Linked DNA regions of Homo sapiens: region 1 is linked to region 2. A link means that fine-mapping ties the variant in region 2 to the expression of a gene that starts in the linked region. Tissue or cell type: whole blood. Region 2 holds a variant in brackets; the other region holds the start of a gene. All regions are shown on one strand. Distances are from middle to middle.

Region 1 (8,174 bases), 24 kb after region 2:
GATCTCGGCTCACTACAACCTCTGCCTCCCAGGTTCAAGCGATTATCCTGCCTCAGCCTCCCGAGTAGCTGGGATTACAGGCGCCCAGCTAAGTTTTGTATTTTCAGTAGAGACGGGGTTTCACCATGCTGGTCAGGGTGGTCTCAAACTGCCGACCTCAGGTGATCCACCCGCCTTGCCTCCCTGAGTGCTGGGCTGACAGGCTGAGCCACTGCGCCCGGCCACAGACATTCTTTTCACTCCTTCCTCCTGTGCTGTAGAGCTGTGGCCTTAGCAGGGCAGGCAGCCAGTGGATGTTCTGGGGCTCCAGAGCGGGTAGAGCTCACCAGCCCCACCCTTGGACAGCCTCTGTCAGGGTTCATCTACGGTCCCAGACCACCTGGAGCACCTTTTACATATGCAGATGCCAGGGCCCTCCCCAGACTGGCTGGATCAACTCCTCAGGCCGGGGTAGGGATGGTGCTAGGCATCTGTGGTTTCACAAGAGCCTCTGAAAAAGCTCACTAAGCTGGAAAAGCTGGGCGGGTGCGGGGTAGGCTGCTGATTTTCTGGGCTCCCTCCTTCATCCCCCAATCTGAGCCCTTCTAAAATTTTTCCTTTTTTTTTTTTTTTTTTTGAGAGCGAGTCTCGCTCTGTCACCCAGGCTGGAGTGCAGTGGCGCGATCTCGGCTCACTGCAAGCTCTGCCTTCCGGGTTCACACCATTCTCCTGCCTCAGCCTCCCAAGTAGCTGGGACTACAGGCGCCCGCCACCACGCCCGGCTAATTTTTTGTATTTTTAGTAGAGATGGGGTTTCACCGTGTTAGCCAGGATGGTCTCGATCTCCCGACCTCGTGATCCGCCCGCCTCGGCCTCCCAAAGTGCTGGGATTACAGGCGTGAGCCACAGCGCCCGGCGAGCCCTTCTAAAATTTCTACCCAAAGAGTCCAGAGTGCCCCAGGCAGCTGCTGTGGGCACAGCACCCCCAGCCTCTGAGCAGCCCCATCCCCAAGCACTCTGGCTTCAACACTCCTAGAGGGCTCACTGTGCACAGGGTACATGGCTAACGTATCAACCCTGCCAGGTAACCTCGGTTGTGATGTCCTTTCATTCATTCATTCATTCATTTATTTACTTATCACTCTTGTAGCCTCGGCTTCCCAAAGTGCTGGGATTACAGGCGTGAGCCACCATGCCCAGCTTACAGTTTTCGTGTATAAGTCTTTTTTTGAGACAGTCTCTCTCTGTCACCCAGGCTGGAGTGCAGTGTTGCGATCATAGCTCACTGCAGCCTTGACCTCCCAGGCTCAAGCAATTCTCCCACCTCAGCCTCCAAATAGCTGGGACTACAGGCACAGGCCACCATGCCCAGCTAATTTTTTTTGTAGAGACAGGGTTTTGTCTTTTTGCCCATCATTTGTTCCTAAGAATTTCTTTTTTGATGCTGTGTTTCATACAGCAAGTGCCTTTGCCTCTCTGGGCTTCCATTTCTCATCTCTAGGATGATAGTCCCGAAGCATCCAGCACACAGGGAGGTAGAAGCATTTGAAGTTCCTGGGGGGGTTGCGTGGACAGGTGGGCAGGACCCGGCTCCCAGGTCAGGGGGGCGTGGCTTCTGCTTATCCATTTCCCAGGCTCTCTTCTCCTTTCACATCACCCTGTCTGAAGCCCTGGCTGTCCCACGGCTCCCTAGGCCCATTCAACAGTTGCTCCTTGTACCTTAAAACCCTCAGGCCGGCCGTGCGCAGTGGCTCACGCCTGTAATCCCAGCCCTTTGGGAGCCCAAGGGGGGCGGATCACGAGGTCAGGAGGTGGAGACTAGCTGAGACCATCCTGGCTAACACGGTGAAACCCTGTCTCTACTAAAAATATAAAAACCAAATTAGCCGGGCGTGGTGGCAGGCGCCTGTAGTCCCAGCTACTTGGGAGGCTGAGGCGGGAGAATGGTGTGAACCCAGAAGGTGGAGCTTGCAGTGAGCTGAGATCACGCCACTGCACTCCAGCCAGGGTGACAGAGCAAGACTCAAAAAAAAAAAAAAAAACCCTCAGGCCAACAGCCCAGCGGGCTCAGGGATGATGGGAAAGGAGCCATCCCTGCGGTGCTGATTTGATTTCCTCCCGCACCAACCCACAAGGTGGGCTCTCTTACCCAGTTTGACAAACGAGAGCACTGAGCCTCTGGGGCAGTTGCCCTCAGACTTGTCTCAAAGCTGGAACAGGGCTGGCCTTACTCCCAGGTCCTCTCTGCCCAGCACATCTACTCCTGACATTCCCCTCAGCATCAGGCTCAGATGGGTGTCACTGCCCTTACTGCTCACAGTACCTGCCATGTGCTCAGGGGTCAGGAAACACTGATTGACCGACTGACTGAATGAATGAATGTCTGTCTCTTGGACACAACAGAGCTTGAAGGCAAAGGTGCTGGGAGTTGGGGGGAGGGGCTTGAGCCTCTTCCTTTTTTTTTTTTTTTTTTTTTTTAAAAGAGACAGGGTCTCACTCTGTCACCCAGGCTGGAGCACAGTGGCATGATCCTAGCTCACTGGAGCCTTGACCTCCTAGGCTAAAGGAGGTACTCTTGCCTCTGCCTCCCAAGTAGCTGGCACTACAGGCAGGTGCCACTGCACCAGGCTAATTTTTTTTTAGTAGGGACAGGGTCTCATTTTGTTGCCCAGGCTGATCTTGAACTCCCGGCCTCATGCTGATCCTCCTACCTCAGCCTCCCAAAGTGCTGGGATTACAGGTGTGAGCCACCACACCCGGCCTCAAGACTCTTTATGAAGAAAAGGTTCTTCAAAAAGAGGGCAGAGTCCCCAGTATGTAAACAGCGGTCCCCCTGGGAAGTTCTTCCTCATGGCAATCGTATGACTGTCACTTCACAATGACACTCTCTCAGTCAACCTTGGCAAAGAGGAAAAGGGGAGTGGAACTTGAGGGAGGAAGTCACAGCTGTGGAAACCTCCAGAGCCCCTCCCTGCAGGGATCAAGCCCAGGGCACTCTCTCCTGCAGTACATCTGTTTATCCCCAGCCACAGCCCAGTCTCCCCAGGGCTTCTGTGGGCTCAGACCAGCCCAGAACAGGCACCCACAGGCTGTGTGGGGGGGCGAGAGCACCTTCATGATGGCATTGCTCTTTTTTTTGAGATGGAGTCTTCCCCCCCCGTTCCCCCCTTCCCCCCTGCCCGTCTCCCAGGCTGGAGTGCAGTGGAGAGATCTCAGCTCACTGCACCCTCCACCTCCCAGGTTCAAGCAATTCTCCTGCCTCAGTTCCTGAAGTAGCTGAGACTACAGGCACATGCCACCACACTCAGCTAATTTTTGTATTTTTAGTAGAGACGGGGTTTCCCCATGTTGGCCAGACTGGTCTTGAACTCCTGACCTCAAGTAATCCGCCTGCCTCAGGCTCCCAAAGTGCTGGGATTACAGGCGTGAGCCACCACGCCTGGCCTGTCATTGCTCTTCTGATGAACAGCAGCTCCCATGGAGTGCTCACCATGCCCTGCGGAAGCCCTTCAGTGTGCTAACTCAATGAAGCTTCACACACAACCCTCTGGGGTAGTGACTATTATTATCCCCATTGTACACCTGGGGAAACTGAGGAACAGCATGTGAATCCCTTGTCCAGGGTCATAGAGCTTGAAAGGGGAGAAGCTGGAAATGAGTGTGTCTGAATGGGCACATTCTTTCCCACAGCCATTCCATGAAAAGTACAGATTAGGATTCCCATTTAAAACGAGGCCCAGAGGAGTAGATTGACAAGCACAAAGTCACACAGCTATGAGGGGCCAAGACTGGACTTGAACCTCGTCTGAGGTCACAGCTCGGGGCAGTGTCACCAGCACTGTGGATCAGAGGGGCTAGAGCCATTTGGGACCTCTTATTTCCTGCGGAAGCCTTGGCTTCCTGCTGGTGACCTGGCAGCGGCCCAGGGCGGCTGCCTCCTCCCTGGCTGTGGTTCCCGGCGGCGGGGAGCTCCTGTCTTCTGCCAGGCTGAGGCGGGAGTGTGTGTGAACCATCTTCCCATCTTTGGATCTGGATTCTAGGGGCTGTCTTTCCTCATTCCTTCCCCTCCCTCGCCGGGGGGTGCACTCTAGGCTGTGGGGCTGGGGGCTGAGTGACAGACACTGAGATGAGACCTTTCTGGATAGGGGAGGAGGACTGGCCCCATTCCCGGCAGGTGGGATTTAAATTAGACCCTGGAGGAGTGGGCGTAGGACATCTGGCCAGGGATGGGTTGCATGGAGGGTGTGGCCCTTGGCCCTGGGTGTGACGGGTTTTCTCTGGGGTCTGAGGCAGGAGGTCAGGAGTGGCGCTGTGGCCCAGGACATCTACCCAGGAAATGGAGTCCCGACTCCCCCAACGCCATTCATTCATTCATTCAGCCCAGAGGGGTTGCCCAGAGGCCCGAGGATGCAGCCGTCTCCCCCACCTGGACATCCGTCACTCGGGGTGGGATCCGATTAAGTGGGCGTGGGGTGGCCTCCCCGTCCCCGCACGGCCCCAGGACCCTCTTGCACAAGCGCCCGGCTTCCAATCCCGCGGCTGAGGGGTGCAGGGGAGGGGAGGGACCGGCTGCGAGCGGCGGCGCCATCCCCAGCCCCGGCGTCTCTGGGAAGAAACCGGGGCCGAGTCCCCGTCAAAAGGGAGGGGACGGGCCAGGATCCCCAACCAGGTCCCGCTTCCTGGGCTCGCGACCCCGCGGTGGGGGGCGTCGCCTCCCCTCTCCCTCCAAGGGGTGACGACAACTGGCGGGCCGGGGACCGCGCCGGGCTCGGGGCCGACCCGGACTCCGCACTCACCTGCGCTCATGCCGGCTCCTCGCGCTCATCGCCGGCCCCGGCGCTGCGGCCCTCGGCCTGGGCCCCGGCGTGCGCAAGGCCCTGGGCGGGGGCGCGGTCCGGACGGCCCGGGGCGAGGGGCGCTGGGCTAGCGCGGGGCTGGAGCAGGGCTGACGCGGGCGGGGCACCTGGGCCACCAGGCTCGGCGCGGCTCCGACACTGCCGCAGTCCCTCCGTGCGCGCCGCAAGCCCCGCCCGGCCCTCTGCGGCCCTCGCAGCGCCCGCGCCGGGGCTGCCGGGACTTGTAGTCCCCGCCTGCTCCTCCGCACACACCGGGGGCGGGGCGACCGGAGACACACACCTCACGGAGGTAGCCCCCGCCAGCACGTCCCAGTGGTTAGGGACTGTGCGTGCTGGTCCAGCTCTCCATGTCTTCCAGGCCGCGCGACCGTGAGCAAGTCACTGATCCTCTCTGGCCCTCTTTTCCCAACCTGTAGGATAGCAATGCCTGCTTCACAGAGAACTGCTGCGAGGATCACACAAGAAAATGCTTGTCAACTGGGCGTGGTGGCGCATGCCTGTAATCCCAGCTACTCGGAGACTAAGCCAGGAGAATCGCTTGAACCCAGGAGGCGGAGGTTGCTGTGAGCCGGGATCATGCCATTGCACTCCAGCATGGGCAAAAAGAGCGAAACTCTGTCTCAAAAAAAAAAAAAAAAGAAAATGCGTATCAAGCACTTGAGACAGTGCCTGGCGCTGCTTGATGAATGCAAAGAAGGAAGACACACCTGCCCAGAGATTCACAGGGTCAGATGTGGGCCCACAGAGACCCAGGGAGAGTCTGCCATGATGCACTGGAGGCCTTGAAATGCCAGAGAAAGAGAAGCCTCACAGCGTGACCTGCAGACACACCTGCACTGGGGGGATTCATGAAGACCCCTGAAAGGCACCAGAGATGTCTTACCTGCGTGCAGCATTTATCCTGCTACCCCATAGTGACCGGCACAGGCATAGTGTTCCCTGTCTCCAGGACCTCTGGACAGAGGAGCTCCAAAGGGGAGAGTGGATCTGTGAGATCCTAGGGCAAACAAGGGAAGGTTCACGTTAGGGCCAAGGATAGACGTGGGCAGGATCACTGGTCATTTGTCCAGTATGAATTTATGGAGTGCCAGCACCACTGTGGGAGCCAGGAACGTGAGAGTGAACAAAACAGAGATGCCCCTGTCCCTGCGGAGACTGCTGTCTACTGGGAAGTAGCCCTAGTCAAGGAAAGGAAAACTCCAACGATCCCTATTGTGGAAGGGGCTGGAAGGAGACACAGCTGTGATGGTGGTGAGGGTGTGGGTAGGGGATAGACCCCAGGAGGGAAAGCAGCACCTGATTCATAGCAAGATCCCAGTGAACATTTGGTACAGGAACACACGTTGGCAGGACTTGCTGGTGGATAGGATGTGGGGGTGCAGGAATGTGTGGAATTCAAGATGCTCCCCAGGGTTTTGGCCTGAGCAGCTGGGTGCCAGTGGAGCCATTTACTCAGCTGGGGCAGGCTGCCCGAGCCAACCAGTTGCGGGTCATTCCTGTTGACCACCTGGGCCATGGGACTGGCTTCCTTGGGTCAGGTGACAAGAGTTCTTTCATCTTCCGGTGACACTTCCAGGGGAGGCAGGCTGCTTAACTTTTCAGAACTCCCATGTCCTCCCCCAGGGCTTAGCTCAATTTCTGGCAGGAACCCAGCCTCCAGGGCAGCAGGAAGGCTGGGTTTGGAAATGGCTAGCCCAGGTGGCCTTGGCAAGAGGCAGTATGGTACAGTGGCAAGGGGCTGGGTTCTGGCATCAGAAAGACATGGATGCATGAGTTGCTTTCTAGCTGTGTGAGCTTTAAAATGTCACTTTCCTTCTCTAAGGCTCTCCTTCCCCTCACCTACAAAATGGAAGGCATGGAGAGGATGAAATGAGATGGCAGGAACTTGGTAGAAGCCAGCTGCTTGCTTTAGATCCTGGCACTGGATTAGCGGCTTCATAAAAGCAGAGGTACTCCAGTCTGGGTGAAAGACTGAGACTCCCTCTAAAATAAATAAATAAATAAATAAATAAATAAATAAATAAATAAAAGCAGAGGGCTTGGGGACTGCATGGGGGACTGCCTTGCAAGGGTGCCCCCTTCATTCTTTTTATTGCTAAGGCTGCCTGGCCTTAAAGGGGCTCTATTCCCTGAGCCAGCTGGGAAGGAGCCGCACCTGCAGCTCGTCCCTTCTCCTTAATGAGGGAGGAGGCCAGAGGAAGCTTCCTTCCAAACCACAGAGCATGTGGGAGGCCTTGCCATCTGCTTGGGGTTACCTTTGGGGAAGTGGCTCTCGGTGTGTGGTCATCGAGGAGGTCTGTGGCCCAGGCTGTCTTCCCGGATAACCGTGTCTGAAATTTCCAGTCCCACGTGGGTGAGAACCGACTGAACAGCTTCCCTTCTAGGCTGTGGCTCTCTTGGGAACCCACGGAGAGGGCGTAATAGGCCTGGTCCCAGTGGCAAAAAGCTTGAGAAATCACTAATTTGGGCGAGTTTATTCCAGAGCATTGCTTTACTTTTCGACTTCTCTAGTTTCACTAGATTTTTGCAACAAAAGAGGATTTTTTTCACCTAGTAACAAACCCTGTTGGTAGGATTATGGCTGTCTAGACACACAGTAAAGTGGGGTTTCAGTTTTTGTTTTTGTTTTTTTTGTTTGTTTGTTTTGAGACAGGGTCTCTCTCTGCTGCCCAGGTTGGAGCACAGTGGCATGATCTCAGCTCACTGCAGCCTCGACCTCCTGGGCTCAAGTGATCCTCCCACCTCGGCTCAAGTGATCCTCCCACCTCAGCCTTCTGTGTACCTGGGACTACAGGTGAGCACTACCACACCCAGCTAATTTTTCTGTTTTTTTTTTTTGTAGAGATGGGGTTTGCCATGTTACCCAGGCTGGTCTCGAACTCCTGTGCTTCAGAGATCCACCTTGGTCTCCCAAAGTGGGATTACAGGAGTGAGCCACTGTGCCTGGCCGAGTTTCAGCACTTTGTATGGTAGTTATCCTGGTGCCAGGAAGGGAAGGGGCCTGAAGAGAATTTGACCAATGGGAGTCCCTCCCTGACCTGAGCAGTGTGACGGGAGAGATGAGAAATAAGCAATATTAGCCTTGCACGGAAAAACCATCCTCCCAACAGGGAGGCCTCTAGCTCTGGCCAGTCATGTCAGAAACATGCCAGCTGTCAACTCAGGGTTGGGAAGGAATTACTCTTGCAGCCTCCCAGCATTCACTCGAGGGCCTTTCACATAGTAGGTACTCAAGACAAATCCGTTCACTTGAGTTTATGGAGCATTTACTCTACTGCAGGCAAGATGCTTTCACATTTACTTTTAGACTTCAACCATAATTCTGAGAGGGGAATGCTG
Region 2 (8,174 bases):
CTCAGGTTAGAGGCTCAACTTCCCTGTGGCTTCCAGGGCCCCGGCCCTTTATGGCAGCCTGGCTCTGCCTCCTCTTCCTCCTCCAGCCACTGGCCTTTGGGGGTTTTCTCCCAAACCCCTCTCCCTCCCACACTGAGGCGTTTCTTCCTCCCGAGCACTGGCTGAGGTCTCCTCCATGGGGTCACAGATCAAACCCTCCCTTCCTCAGAGGGGCCTTCCCTTTTTCCTTTTTTTGTGCTTTCTAGCTTTACTGCTTGCAGTTGTCTTGTTGGCCTATGTCTGTGACCATCTGAGCCCTGTCCCTCTTCCCGATGAGACTGTCATCTTGCCCCGTGAAGGCCAGGACCAAGGCTGTTTTTGCTCATCTTCAGTTTTGCTCATTAAGTTCAGAGCCCGGCTCAGAGCAGCAGTTCAGCAAACATTGGTGGAATGAATGAGTGAACTGTACACTAAACTCTTCCCGGAGAAGCTGGCTGGGGGTGCAGATCCTCTGCGTGAGGGGCAGCCTTCAGCCCTGCCCAGGAGCCTAGGCCTGAGGCGGGAGTGAGAGTTGTAGGGGCTGCGGGCTGGGAGGAGATGAGGATGGCCCCTGATTTAGACCCTTGCCATCTGATCTCTTCATCGCCAGTCATTCCCCCACCTCCCTTAGACTCTGAGTCTTAGGGAGGGAGTAAATATGCCCTGTGCCTCCTTCATTCCCATGCCCCGCCCCCCAGTGTCTATTGCAGGGCAGCAGAGACTTTTGTCACCTGGAGAGAGGTGGGCCCTCAGGCCAGGCCAGCCCAGCCCTCTCTGCCTGCCCTTAGACCCCACTGCTGCCAGGAGCAATCCCACTGGCAAAAGAGAGGAACTCACCCAGCAGAAATGCTGTCCCCTACCCTTGAAAAAAGGAGGGAGGTTGGGTGCAGTGGCTCACACCTGTAATCTCAGCAGTTTAGGAGACCAAGGCGGGTGGACCGCTTGAGCCCAGGGGTTTGAGACCAGCCTGGACAGCATGGCAAAACCCCATCTCTACAAAAAATACAAAAATTAGCTGGGTGTGGTGGTGCTGGCCTATAGTCCCAGCTACTCAGGAGGTTGAGGTAGGAGGATCACCTGAGCCTGGGGAGGTAGAGGCTGCAGTGAGCCACGATTGCACCACTGCACTCCAGCCTGGGCAACAGAGCAAGACCCTGTCTGAAAAAAAAAAAAGAAAAGAAAAGAAAAACTGGGAAACTGAGGGGCTAAAGCTGACAATTCGTGTCCTGGCTCCCATGTCCTCTCTGCTGCTTCTACCCATTCCCCTGGCTGTTTCTTTGGGCAGGGGAGGGGATGGGGCTGTGGTTGCTGTGCTCCCACTACGTCTTTGGAGATGTGCTCCTTCCCTGCCAGGCTTTCACGCTGGATGGTGAACTGCTCGCAGGGTTAGACCATGTTTTTGTCCCGTTTTATTCAGTTTGTTGAGTTAGTCCTGGTGCCTGGCACACACCTGTCCAACAGATTCATGAATAATCAGCTAAGGGTAGAGGAGGGATTTGAACCCAGGCCTCTCTGTGGCTTCCTCTTAAACAGCATCTACCACCCTGAACCGTCGCTGGCTGGCAACACAGTGCCAGGAGCAGAGGTCCACTGTGATGTGCCTCCTGGCAGGACTTTCATCTTCACACCCACATCCCTTCTCCCCAGCATGATTCAACGTTTTCTCAGCCCCTACTCTGGCAGGCCTGGGGATAGCACCAGGGGTTCCAGGAATGAGGTTGGCCAGGGCTTTTGGAAGGCAGGAAACAGCCGGTCTTTCCTGTTCTCCCCTGCCCAGATGAGCCAGACGGCCAAGCTGCCTCTCTAGAGCAGAGGGGCTTGGCCAGGGGCCCGCTGGTGAGATGAGCTCAGAGGCACCCACCCTTCCCTGAGGGATGATGCGCGTGGTTCTGGCTGGGAGATGTGGGCTCCGAGCCTGGATTTCATCTGAGGAAGGAACTGCCCACAAACATGTCCCAGGATGCTGGGGTGGGACGGGGAGGGGGTAAGGTGGGAGAGAGGGAGCTGCCCCCTAGCAAATGCCTCCCAGGCAAGCCTACATCTCCTTGTCCTCCAAAGGAGGGTAGGAGGGTTAGGAACATCGAAGCTGGAGTCAAAGCTATCCGGCCCCACTCTGACTACTTGTGTAACCTCTAAGCCTTGGTTTCTTCATCTGTAAAATGGGAATAGTACCACAGTTGTTGGAAGGATGACATGACAATGTGTGTAAAATGCTAAATGGGGCCAAGCGCAGTGGCTCACGCCTGTAATCCCAGCACTTTGGGAGGCCAAGGTGGGCGGATCACCTGAGGTCAGGAGTTCGAGACCAGCCTGGCCAACATGACGAAACCCTGTCTCTACTAAAAATACAAAATTTAGCTGGGCGTGGTGGCACATGCCTGTAATCCCAGCTACTCGGGAGGCTGAGGCAGGAGAATCGCTTGAACCTGGGAAGCGGAGGTTGCAGTGAGCAGAGATCACCCCACTGTACTCCAGCCTGGGTGACAGAGCAAGACTCCATCTCAAGAAAAAAAAAAAAAAAAAAAAAAGCTAAACGGAATATCCAGGCACATGCTGGACACAGAGGAAACATTATTACTGTGAGATGAGGGAACACAGGCCCAGAGAGGGGAGTTGGCCAATGGAGTCTGAAAAACCAGGGGGTTCCAGGGGGTTGTCAGGCTGAAAAACCAGCCTGAAAAACCAGCCCCCCAGGGGGTTCCAGGGGCAGACACGTGCAGGGGCTGCCAGCTGGGCACCCGGGGGTATGTGCATTTCCTCCTGGGCAGGTGGGAGGGTCTATGGTGCCAGGTACAAGACAGGCACAGCAGAGCCAGGAAAATATCATGACTTTATTTGCTACACTGACAGCAGCACTGAGGGGAGCTGGGGGCTGCCACCCCTACGCGGGATGGTCCAAGGTAGGGGACAGTAGTCAACGCTTCCCCAGGGTGGGGGTGGTCTCGGGGGAGGAGTGTAGACAGTCGCCAACCTCAGGGATGTGGGAGGTGGTGGCGGTGGTGTTGCTGGAGAGGGGTCCAGTTGGTGGCTCAGAGGCAGGGAGTTCCAGTGTCTGGGGTGCCCGTGGGCCTGCACTACCTCAGGGGGCCGGCGGGCAGCGGCGGCCAGGGCTGCTCGGCCAGCTCTCGTTCCAGCTGCTTGAAGCGCTTCTTGGAGGCCCGCTTGGGCCGGAGGCGGCGCAGGCAGGCGGGGAGGCACTGGTCTAGCACGCTCTGCAAAGGGCAGGGAGGGTGTCAGGGGCAGCCGGGGCTGAGCTGGGGTCAATGCACCCCCACCTCCCTTCTCTCCCGCTGCTGAGACCCAGGGCGGGCCCCACCTCCAGCATGAAGGCCCCCACGAAGTTGAGGGTGACCAGACCCAGCAGCAGCAGCTTGAAGCCGGTGTCAGTGATGTTCCTCAGCGCCAGCGGCCCCTGCAGGAGGCCGGGGACCAGGACAAGGCCCACCAGGACGGAGCTCAGGAGCGCCAGGGCCACCAGGAAGGGCACTGGGAGCAGGAGAGTCTCTCAGGCAGGAGCCACGCCCCCCCGGCACCCACAGACACACGTGTGCACGCCAGTCTTCCACTCGGCCGGCACCTCTCTCCCATCTGCCTCCCCAGCACCCCAGGGCTCCTCCCTCCCTCCGCCAGCATCTCCCGCCCGCGCCCGCAGTGGCACCATTGGTGTAGAGCGGCCGGCGGAAGGGCGCCCCCTTGGACACGGCTGCAGCCAGGATGAGGTACTGGAAGCTGGACAGAGAGAAGACCAC[G/C]GTGTTCTCGTAGTTGGGCAGGTTGTCTGGTGCGGCCACTGTCCTGTTCAGAGGCACGAACCTGGGGGTACAGGGATGGGGGTCAGGGAACGAACGTGGGGTGGACAGGGAAGGGGCGGGATGGGGGTGGTCAGTCAGCTCCCTACTCACCATGGCTGGGCCAGGGTCAGGAAGTAGCCCCCTAGCTGCACGCCGGTCACCAGGACCATCTGCAGCAGCAGGCTGCTGAGCACGGGCACGCTGAGCAGCGCCCCCGGTGGCCGCACCCGTCCCAGGACCAGCGCTGGCCCCGTGCGGCTCATGAGCACTGCCACTGTGGTGGTGATGACCAGGTCGATGGCCAGGAACTGCAGGTCACCCAGGTTGGTGTTGATCTGCCACAGGGAAGGGAGGACAGAGGGGAAACTAAGACCTGGCCCTGGCAGCCCCTAGTCTGATAGCAGAGGCCCCACCCCTGCCCCGAAGGAATCTGATGGGTAAGGCATCCCCCAGTCTAATGGGGGCCGTACTCTCCTGCCAGCCCAGCGGAGGAGGTGCCGCTCTTGATGTGAGACAAACCCCTGGTCTGATGGAAAGGGCACCTGTGCTGACCTTGGGGGCCTAAATCTGAGGGGAGGTTTCCCTCCCTGTAACAAACTCCCGGCCCGAAGGGGAGGCTTCGGCTCTGCCTTGCGGAGTCCCTATAGCTACCAGGGCATGCACAGTTCCTGCCCTCAGGGAGCTCCTCGCTTTCAGGCAGACACAGGGACAGACCCAAGTATAAGATGTGCGCCGCCCTGCAGTGTCACCTCATTCGCTGGGGGTGAGCAGGCCATGCCCAGAGCAGGGGAGGGGAGAGCTCCTCCAAGTAGGGTGTGGGAGGTACAGCCAAGGTATGGGGCAAAGCAAGTGCATCTGGGGAAATGGGCAGACCTGTGGGGATGGGGCGGGGGCGAGGGTTTTGGCCCTGCCTCCGTTCAGTCTTCCCTGCAGATTGGGGAGCTCCCAGAGTTGCGGTCAAGATGTTAGCCCATGACAGCTGCTGCCATTTGTGAGGACCTAGTGGGTACCAGGCTCCGTGCCTGGTGTTTTTCTCATCTCCCCCAAGCCTTGCCACCTCTCCAACCACACAGCCGGAGAGTGGCAGGGTCAGGATCTGGGCCCACGTCATCTATTCTGGGACCTGCCAGCTCCAAGGCACAGGGCTGTGTCCCCTCCCTAGTCCTGGGACGGCTCTGGGTACGGAGCTCTGCAGATACTCACCGTGTAGAGGATCAGGACGGAGATGAACTGGGTCAGGCTGTACAGAGCCATGTACTTGAAGACGCTGAACGAAGTGTCAAGGGAACAGCGCCCCTCCCTGGGTGGCAGGGCACGGACATTAGGGGACCCAGGTTGGCTGACCAGCCCTGCTGAGCCCTCACCCACCGGTCCCTGCCTGCCTTACCTGATGACCATGGGCACGCACTCAATACTGGCCATGCTCGAGGTGAAGGGTGAGACCACTGAGGCTTCTGCCTGGGACAGCGAGATGCCGACATCAGCCGCCTTCAGGGCCCCACAGTCATTGGCGCCGTCTCCGCACATGCCCACGCAGTACCTGAAGAGAGGTGTGGACAGGTGTGGCCTGGGGAATTACCCCACCACCCCATGGGTGGGCTGGCAGAATATGATGACAGCTGGGCCCCTAATGCCACATGGTGCCTGGTGTACAGGAGGCGCTCAGTGAATAGATGCAATTATTATTATTATTATCATTATTATTATTATTTTTTGAGACGGAGTTTCACTCTTGTTGCCCAGGCTGGAGTGTAATGGCATGATCTCAGCTCACTGCAACCTCTGCCTCCTGGGCTCAAGTGATTCTCCTGCTTCAGCCTCCCAAGTAGCTGGGATTACAGACGCCCGCCACCACGCCTGGCTAATTTTTTGTATTTTTAGTAGAGATGGGGTTTCACCATGTTGGCCAGGCTGGTCTTAAACTCCTGATCTCAGGTGATCCACCCGCCTCGGCCTCCCAAAGTGCTGGGATTACAGGCATGAGCCACCGTGCCCGGCCTATTATTTTTTGAGACAGAGTCTCCCTCTGTTGCCCAGGCTAGAGTGCAGTGGCGTGATCTCTGCTCACTACAACCTCCTCTGCTGCCCAAGTGCCCTCAGCCTCTTGAGTAGCTGGGATTACTGGTGTGCGCCACCATGCCCAACTAATTTTTGTATTTTTAGTAGAGACAGGGTTTCACCATGTTGGCCAGGCTGGTCTTGAACTCCTGACCTCAGGTGATCTGCCTGCCTCAGCCTCCCAAAGCGCTGGGATTACTGGCATGAGCCACCGCGCCTGGCCTATTACTATTTTTTGAGACGGAGTCTCGCTCTGTTGCCCAGGCTGAAGTGCAGTGGTGTGATCATGGCTCACTGCAGCCGCAGCCTCCCAGGCTCAAGCAACCCTCCTGCCTCAGCCTCTTGAGTAGCTGGGATGACCGGTGTGTCACCACACCTGGCTAATTTTTAAATTTTTAATAAGAGATGGGGTCTCACTTTGTTGCCCAGGCTGGCCTCAAACTCCTGGGCTCAAGTGATCCTCCCACCTCGGCCACTCAAAGAGGTGGGATTACAGGAATGAGCCACCGCACCCAGCCTACAATTATTATTTTTAGCATGAAAGACCTGGGAGAGCCTGCCTGCTTTTGGTGAGGAGGGGTGACAGCTCTCTGGTGCCTGAGGAGGGAGACAGGGCCCTGGGGAAGGACAGATGAACAGACGAACGGACAAGCTCAGTCTCCGCAGGCCCTTGCCCACACCCTCTGCCGAGCACTCACTGAAGCTTCTGTAGCTCGCACACCAGCTCTGTCTTCTGCTCAGGGGCCATGCGGGCAAAGACAGTGCCCTGGACCAGGACCTGGGAGCACAGGGAGATGGGGGAGGGCTGAGGCACCCACCAGGGAGAGCGAGCCGTGAGGAAGGAGACAGAGCAGGGGAGGCGCAGGGCGGCCAGGGAGCTGGGGGCGGCCCTACCTTGGGCAGCAGCTTGGGGAAGTGCTTCACAATGATACCAAAGGTGGGCCCGCTGAGGGCCAGGTGCCTGGATCGGGGGTCTGGCTCCACGGTGTAGCTTGCAGCCTGGTCAGGATCCTGGGGGCCCAGGAAGCTCAGCTTAGCTCCCCCTGCCCACCCTGGAGAGTTGGGGCCTGGGTCAGGTGACACAGGGGTGGGGTCACTGGGTGAGGTACAGCTGGAACTCTGGGTTAGCCTCACCTTAACGCCATTCACGGCTGTGGGGGACTCCATCGGCAGGAACTCGAGAGAGGCAGGCTGACCCCGCTCAGGGTGGGTGGCGTGGACGATGATCAGATGCTCCTGGGGGGCCACCATGCCACAGCCCCGGGCCACAGTCACCGCTGTCTGCAGGTTGTCCCCTGGGGGTTATGGGGCAAGGTGAGGGTCTGAGGCTATCCGGGGAGGCCATCCTCATCCTGATCCTTACAGATGGGAAAACAGGCTGGATGAAATCCGTCTGCCACCACCAGCCAAGTGAGCTGAGGCAGGTTACCAACATCCCTTTGCCTCAGTTTTCTCATCTGTAGATCCAGGCATTGAAGGGTCTTAGGAGAACCTGGAGCCGTGGGCTGGAGCTCCACATATACTCCTTTTTTTTCTTTTTTTAAGACAAGAGTCTCTCTCTGTGGCCCAGGCTGGAGTGCAGTGGCTTGATCTCGGCTCACTGCAACCTCCTTCCTCCTGGGCTCAAGCAATTCTCCTGCCTCAGCCTCTTGAGTAGCTGGGATTACAGGAGGGTGCGACCACACCAGGCTAATTTTTTTTGCATTTTTAGTAGAGATGGGGTTTCACCATGTTGGCCAGTCTGGTCTTGAACTCCTGGCCTCAGGTGATCCCCCTGCCTCGGCCTCCCGGAGTGCTGGGATTACAGGCACGAGCCATGTGCCCAGGCTACATATACTCCTTACTGCTGTGTGACTCTGCTGCCAAGTGCCCATGAATGTGTGTGCACATATGTGTGTGTGCAGGGGCGGGGAGGACAAGGACACAGACCTCTTAGCTCCTGCTGTCTCACCCTAGCTAGAATCTTTTTTTTTTTGAGACTGGGTCTCTCTCTGTTGCCCAGGCTGGAGTGAAATGGCGTGATCTCAGCTCACTGCAACCTCCACCTCCCGGGTTGAAGTGATTCTCCTGCCTCAGCCTCCCGAGTAGCTGGGATTACAGGCATCCACCACCATACCTGGCTAATTTTTTGTATTTTTAGTAGAGACGGGGTTTCACTATGTTGGCCAGGTTGGTCTCGAACTCCTGACCTCAAGTGATCCGCCCGCGTCGGCCTCCCAAAGTGCTGGGATTACAGGCGTGAGACACTGTGCCCGGCCATTTTCGTATTCTTTGTAGAGACGGAGTTTTGCCATGTTGCCCAGGTTGGTC

What was found. PIP is the estimated chance that this variant, and not a neighbour inherited with it, causes the effect.
Region 1: ATP13A2 starts here. The variant in region 2 is fine-mapped to the expression of ATP13A2 in whole blood (TOPMed, PIP 0.97).

Annotation. Positions count from the first base shown.
Region 1 is chr1:17,006,954-17,015,127 of GRCh38, forward strand. ATP13A2 (ATPase cation transporting 13A2) reads right to left here and starts at 4,975. Exons shown (of 29, transcript NM_022089.4): 1 at 4,776-4,975. The coding sequence starts at 4,785. RefSeq lists enhancers at 3,227-3,306, 4,070-4,119 and a silencer at 4,610-5,139.
Region 2 is chr1:16,983,129-16,991,302 of GRCh38, forward strand. It overlaps ATP13A2 (ATPase cation transporting 13A2), which reads right to left. Exons shown (of 29, transcript NM_022089.4): 21 at 6,999-7,159; 22 at 6,759-6,875; 23 at 6,563-6,642; 24 at 5,194-5,346; 25 at 5,010-5,106; 26 at 3,918-4,141; 27 at 3,677-3,828; 28 at 3,335-3,504; 29 at 2,830-3,230. The coding sequence ends at 3,093. Among named protein-coding and RNA genes, the nearest start is that of MFAP2, 6.6 kb to the left of the region's middle. The variant G/C (reference allele first, on the strand shown) is at 3,768.